2 linked regions of the Homo sapiens genome follow. The protein of the gene in region 1 interacts with the protein of each later gene in a pairwise test. Each region holds a gene or a part of one and is shown in the gene's direction. Other genes may lie near its edges.

Region 1 (3,812 bases):
CAAAGAAAACGCCTCCATAATGCAGCCTCCAAACTGCACAAATTGAAAAGTGAAGGATTCATGAAAGTAAGCACTCATTGGTTATTAGAAAAAATTGTAATGCGAATATGTTGCCACTGCCATGCTCATTTGGGCTTTAGGAAGTACACTCTCTAAATGTTAAAGTGTTGCATTTATTTTAGTTTAATTTGTTCATTCATTCATTCGTTCATTCAAGACTATAATTTAAGGTAGTTTTAAGTTCACGGTAAAATTTAGAGGGAAGTGCAAAGATATCCCATATACCCACTTCCCCCACACATACACAGCCTCCCCAATTGGCACGATTACCCACCAGAGCAGTACATTTGTTACAATTGATGAACTTAGGCTGACACATCATAATCACCCAGCATCCATAGTTTACAGTAGGGTTCACTCTTGGTGTGGTACATTCTGTGGGCTTGGACAAATGTATAACATGTATCCACCATTATAGTCTTATACAGAGTAGATTTATTGCCCTCAAAATCTTCTGTGCTTCACCTCTTCACACCTGTTCACCCCTCCCTCCACCCTCCTCCCTAACCCCTGGCTACCATTTCTTTTTACTATCGCCATAGTTTTGCCCTTTCCAGAATGTCATATAGTTGAATCATACATGTGTAGTCTTTTCAGATTGGCTTCTTTCACGTAGTCATATGCATTTAAGTGCCCTTCATGTCTTTTCATGACCTGCTAGCTCATTTCTTTTTAGCATGGCTAATGTGCCATTGTCTGGATATATCACAGTTCATTTATACATTTATCTACTGAAGGACATCTTTATTGCTTCCAAGTTTTGGCAAGTATGAATAAAGCTGCTATAAACTTTTGTGGACAGGCTTTTGTGTGAACATAAAGGATTTGAAAACTCCTTTGGGTAAATACCAAGGAGTGTGATTGCTAGATTGTATGATGTTTCGTTTTGTTAGAAACAACCAGACTGTTCTGAGGTGGCTATTTTGCATTCCCACCAGAAATGAATGAGGCTCCTGTTGCTCCACATCACATCCTCACCAGCATTTGGTATTATTGGTGTTCTGGATTTTGGCCATTCTGTTAGGTGTGCAGTGGTATCTTATTGTTTGAATTTGCATTTCCCTGATTACACATGTTGTGGAGCATATTTTCATGTGCTTATTTGCTATCTGTATGTCTTCTTTGGTGAATTGGCTGTGAAGGTCTTGGCTTATTTTTCAGTCAGGTTGTTCATTTTCTTATTGTTGAGTTTTAAGAGTTCTTTGTGTATTTTGGCTAATGGTCCTTTATCAGATAAGCTTTTTGCAAATATTTTGCTCCATTCTTTTGGTTGCTTTTCATTCTCTTGACAGTGTCTTTTGCAGAGCAGACATTTTTGATGAAGTCTAGCTTACTAATTCTTTCTTTCATGGATCTTGCTTTTAGTGTCCTATCTAAAAAGTTAACACCAAACCTACGGTCACCTAGATTTTATCCTCTGTCATTTTCTAGGTGTTTTATACTTTTGCATTTAGGTCTGTGAGCTATTTTGAGTTAATTTTTGTGAAGTGTGAATGTGTCTAGATTCTTTTCTTGCTTGCTTTCTTGCTTCCTTGCTTCTTTTCTTTTTTTTTTTTTGTTTCCAGTTGTTCCAGCACCATTTGTTAAAAACGCTATTTCTTGCATTGTATTGCCTTTGCCGCTTGTCAAAGATCAATTGACTATATTTGTGTAGGTCTGTTTCTGGGCTCTTTCTCTTTGTCTGTTCGTTTGCGCATACCACACTGTTTGATTACTCTAGCTCTATTTTCTTGAAGTTGGGTAGTGTCAGTCCTCCTATTTTGTTCTCCTCCTTCAATACTGTGTTGGCTATTCTGGGTCTTTTTCTCCTCATATGAACTTTTGATTCACCTTGAATAACTTGCTGGGATTTTCATTGAGATTGCGTTAAATCTTTAGGTCAAGTATTGAGTCTTCCTACCCATGAACATGGAATATCTCCTCATTTATTTAGTTCTTCCTTGATTTCTTTCAAGAGTTTTGTGGTTTTTCTCATATAGATCTTATACATATTTTGTTAGATTTATACCTATTTCGTTTTTTGCAGTGTTAATATATATAGTAATTGTGTTCTTAATTTCATGTTTGACGCTGATATATAGGAAAGTGATCAACTTTTGTATTAATCTGAAATCTTGCTATAATTGTTTGTTAGTCCCAGGAGTTTTTTTTCATTGTGGTTCTTTCGGTTTTTCTACATAGAGAGTCAAGTCATCTGTGAACTAAGACAGTTTTCTTTCTTTCTTCCCAGTCTTCATACCTTTTATTTCCTTTTTGTTTGTTTGTTTTATTGCATTAGTTAGGACTTGCAGTACTATGTTGAAAAGGAGTGGTAAGAAAAGGGACAATCTTGCCTCGTTCCTGATCTTAGTAGATGTTTTCATGTTCTCACCATTAAGTATGATGTTAACTACAGATACTCTTTATCAAGTTGAAGAAGTTCCTCTCTATTTCTAGTTTACTGAGAGTTTCTACCATAAATGGTGTTGGATTTTGTCAAATGCTTTTGCTTTATCTAATTATGCAATCATGTGATCTTTCTTCTTTAGCCTGTTTCTTTTTTTTTTTTTGAGACGGAGTTTTACTCTTGTTGCCCAGGCTGGAGTGCAGTGGTGCCATCTCAGCTCACTACAACCTCCACCTTACGGGTTCAAGTGATTCTCCTGCCTCAGCCTCCCAAGTAGGTGAGATTACAGGCATGCAACAGCATGCCCAGCTAATTTTGTATTTTTAGTAGAGACGGAGTTTCACCGTGTTGATCAGGCTGGTCTTGAACTCCTGACCTCAGGTGATCCACCCTCCCTCCTCGGCCTCCCAAAGTGCTGGGATTACAGGCATGAGCCATTGTGCCCAGCCTAGTCTGTTGAAGTGATGGATTACATTAATTGATTTTTGAATGTGGAACCGGCCCTACCTACCTGGCATAAATCTCACTTGATTGTGGTGTATAATTCTTTTTATACATTTTGCATATGATTTTCTAATATTTTGTTGAGGTTTTTTGCATCTATGCTCATGAGATATTTATTGGTTTGTAGTTTGCTTTTCTTGTCAAGACTTCGTCTGCTTTGGGTATTAGGGTGATGCTGACTTCATAGCATGAGTTAGGAAGCATTCCCTTTGCTTCTGTCTTCTGAAAGATCCTATGTAGAGTTGGTATAATTTCTTCTGTAAGTGCTTGGTAGACTTCATTAGTGAACCCTCTGGGCCTGGTGCTTTCTGTTTTGAAAAATTATTATTGATGCAATTTCTTCAATAGATATAGGCCTGTTCTTGTGAATTTTGGCAAATTATGTCTTTGAAAGAACTGGTCTGTTTATCTAAGTTATCAAATTTGTGGGCATAGAGTTGTTTGTAGTATCCCTTTATTATCCTATTTTTGTCCATGAGGTAGGTCTAAAGTGGTAGCCTCTCTTTTATTTGTTGTTTTTCTGAATTTGTGTTTCCTCTTCTTTCATCTTAGTTAGTCCAAGGCTTATTGATTGTGTTTATCTTTTGAACTAACTAGCTTTTGGTTTCATTGTTTTATTTCTGTTTTAGTTTTTATTATTTCTTTTCTTCTGATTACTTTGGATTTAATTTGCTCTTTTTCTAGTTTCCTGAGGTGGAAGCTTAGATTATTAATTTTATTTTATTTTTATTTATTTATTTTTTGAGACAGAGTCTCACTCTGTTGCCCAGGCTGTAGTGCAGTGGTGCGATCCCAGCTTGCTGCAATCTCTGCCTCCTGGGCTCAAGGGATCCTCCCACCTCAGCCTGCCGAGTAGCTGGGA
Region 2 (3,500 bases), about 190 Mb from region 1:
TCCAGCCTGGGCGACAGAGTGAGACTCTATCTCAAAAACAAAAAAAAATTTCTATCCATAGAAGGTGTAGTGGGAACAGGAAAGACAAAAATGAATAGACAGATTGCTAATATATACAAATTACAAATGTGGCAGGAAATTGGATGGAGTTCTGTGAGGATTCGAATAATCAGGGAGTGCTTGAGTGTGTTGGGGGAACGAGAGATTTGGACAGAATTGTGATGTGGAATTTGAGGTGGCCTTTGGAGAAGGTATACAATTTAGCTGTATCTCCTCAAGGAGAGAGAGAATCAAAACTTTGAAACATTAGGATGAGATAAAAAAAATCAGGGAGAGTGGTTTCAATAGTAATTAAAGAGTCATTAAAAAGTGTTTGAGGCTGGGTACGGTGGCTCATGCCTGTAATCCCAGCACTTCGGGAGGCCGAGGCGGGTGGATCAGCTGAGGTCAGGAGTTTGAGACCAGCCTTACTAACATGGCGAAACCCTGTCTCTACAAAAAATACAAAAATTAGCCGGGCGTGATGGCAGGTGCTTGTATTCCCAGCTACTCGGGAGGCTGAGGCAGGAGAATCGCTTGAACCCGGCAGGCGGAGGTTGCAGTGAGCCAAGACTGAGCCATTGCACTCCAGCCTGGGCGACAGGAGCAAAACTCCTCAAAAAAAAAAAAAAAAAAAAAAAAGTATTTGATCCCTTTCCCTGTCATCATGGTGTGTGCGTGTGACTCAGTTCTTTGCCATGCCTTCCCACAAGACTTTAAGACTTTTAGAATCAAGTGATTCCTGGCCAAGAAACAAAAGCAAAATCGTCCCATTCCCCAGTGGATTCAGATGAAAACTGAGTAATAAAATCAGGTACAACTCTAAGAGGAGACATTGGAAAAGAACCAAGCTGGGTCTAGAAGGAATTTTACATGAGATGGCACACATACTTAATATTGCATCAAGGTCACTATCATGTCACCATATCAAGCTGAAAATGTCACCATCATCTGGACAGTTGTACATGCTGTATTGGAACAATGGTTTTTCTTTTGGTTTCTATGCTCTGCAGTAGGCTGGTTCAGTACTAAATATGTGAGACCTTTTGTTTGGAAAAAAAAGTTTTTGAGTAAGCAAGTGATATTCAAGAAAGATTGTCTGAAGTAGGCAAAATTGATTGGCTCAAGAAGGCCTTATAGTTAGTAAGTTTTTGTAACCACCCTTTTAATCTGTTCTAACGTATTTAGACTTCAGAATATCAAAAAGATTGCATAAAGCATTACAGAGATCTGAAATTTAAATTTTTATGTTATTACATTTTAAAAATTGAAAGTGACCCTCCCTTGCCTTTTTTTTTAAACTTAGTTTTTTCTGTTAGTCATTTAAAACAACTTTTATTGGATCTAATGAACATACCATACAAATCCCTATACAGTTAGAGTGATTATATTCACAGGGTTGCACAGCCATCACTACAGTCTAATTTTAAAGCTTTTTTGTTGTTGTTTTGTTTTTGAGATGGAGTCTCACTGTGTTGCCCAGGCTGGAGTGCAGTGGCACGATCTTGGTTCACTGCAACCTCCGCCTCCCGGGTCCAAGCGATTCTCTTGCCTCAGCCTCCAGAGTAGCTGGGACTACAGGTGTGTGCCACCACGCCTGGCTAATTTTTTTGTATTTTTAGTAGAGATTGGGTTTCACTATATTAGCCAGGATGGTCTCGATTTTCTGACCTTGTGATCTGCCCACCTCGGCCTCCCAAAGTGCTGGGATTACAGGCATGAGCCCCGACGCCCGGCCTTTTAGAACATATTTATCCTTCCTGAAAGGAAACCTCACCCTCATTAGCAGCCATCTTCAGTCTCTTCTGCCTTCCTCTCTGCCCTCAAGCCCTACACCAGTACAAATCTATTTCCTGTCTCAATAGATTTTCTTACTCTAGACACTTCATATAAACCAAATCACAATATGTACCATAGTTATATTTACATTGCCTATGGTGAAATCCTGTATCTACAAAATATGGAAAAGTTAGCCCGGCGTGATGGCGTGTGCCTGTAGTCCCAGCTCCTCAGGAGGCTGAGGTGGGAGGATTGCTTGAGCCCAGGAGGTGGATATTGCAGTGATCTGAGATTGTGCCACTGTACTCCAGCCTGGGTGATGCAGTGAGACCCTGTTTCAAAAAAAAAAAAAAAAAAAAGAAATTATGGTTTGCAATTTTGATCCAAGTTCCAGTCCTGACAAATACAATATCTGCATTTATGTAGTAGATTCTATCCAAATGAAGTTGAATTGAAGGATAAATAAGTAAGGGTAACCTACTTTTTTTCTTAGTTACTGATTATGATTCTATACTTGGTTTCCTATTTAGTGTATAACCCAAGTTGAACCACAAGAGCAGTTATGTATTAACAAATTATATGTACTTAACATAAGATTTACCAGGTGATATAATTTAATTAACCATAAGAACTTCTTTGTTTTTAGTATATTCAACAGAACATAAGAGCAGATTGCTCCAATATTGACAAAATTCTTGAACCACCTGAAGGCCAAGATGAAGGTGTGTGGAAGTATGAACATTTAAGGTAGGACCTTACATCAAAATACTAATAGTACCTCTCACAAAACTAGCTTTCATATTAATGATAATTATGAATTGTAAAATTTACTATGTAACTGCAGACTAAGAAGCCAAATTTTAAAGCTTTGGCATTTTCAGTGTCACAAGGTTCTCAGCTTTCTTCACTGGTTGTTTCCAGGTCAAATTATGCTGCAGAGTCACTCATTTTGAAAGGTGGTTTATTTCAGAGTTGATAATTTGGACCTGCCTCTGCACCTCTCTTCTTTTCTTTTCTTTTTTTTTTTTTTTTTTGAGATGGGGTCTCACTCTCTTGCCCACGTTGGAGTGCAGTGGTGTAATCACTGCTTACTGTGCCTCTACCTCTTAGGCTCAAGTGATCCTCCCACTTCAGCTTCCAGAGTAGCTGGGACTACAGGTGTGTGCCAGCATGCCTCACTAATTTTTTAATTTTTTGTAGAGACAGGATCTGATTGTGTTGCCCAGGCTAGTCTCAAACTCCTGGATTCAAGCAATTTTCCTACCTTGTCCTCCCAAAGTATTGAGCCACCCTTTCTACATTTATTCATTTGGGCCTTATTATCCCCGCCTTTTTTTTGAAACAGGGTCTTGATCTGTTGCCTAGGCTGGAATGCAGTGGTGCAATCTTGGCGCATTGCAGCCTCTGTCTCCCATGCTGAAGCAATCCTCCCACCTCAGCCTCCTGAGTAGCTGGGACTACTAGTGCATGCCTCTAAGCCTGGCTAGTTTTTTGTATTTTTTGTAGAGACAAGGTTTCACCATGTTGCCTAGGCTGGTCTCAAACTCCGGGGCTTAAGCAATCCACCCACCTTGGCCTCCCACAGTGCTGGGATTACCACCATGCCAGCCTGGGTTTTATTCTTATTTCATGATTTTCCTTAATTGTATCTCTTAACCGCTAATATAGTATTTCCGTTTCCC

What was found. The genes of interacting proteins can lie anywhere in the genome.
Region 2: the proteins of KIDINS220 (region 1) and MOB4 interact in a two-hybrid assay, tested with the Homo sapiens proteins (one large-scale study listed by BioGRID and IntAct).

The regions. Positions count from the first base shown.
Region 1 is NC_000002.12:8,781,995-8,785,806, reverse strand, and holds part of KIDINS220 (kinase D-interacting substrate of 220 kDa), read left to right. Parts: coding exon 1-66; intron 67-3,812. UniProt on the Homo sapiens protein: Promotes a prolonged MAP-kinase signaling by neurotrophins through activation of a Rap1-dependent mechanism. Provides a docking site for the CRKL-C3G complex, resulting in Rap1-dependent sustained ERK activation.
Region 2 is NC_000002.12:197,533,066-197,536,565, forward strand, and holds part of MOB4 (MOB-like protein phocein), read left to right. Parts: intron 1-2,464; coding exon 2,465-2,565; intron 2,566-3,500. Other genes in the region: HSPE1-MOB4 protein, read left to right, coding at 2,465-2,565.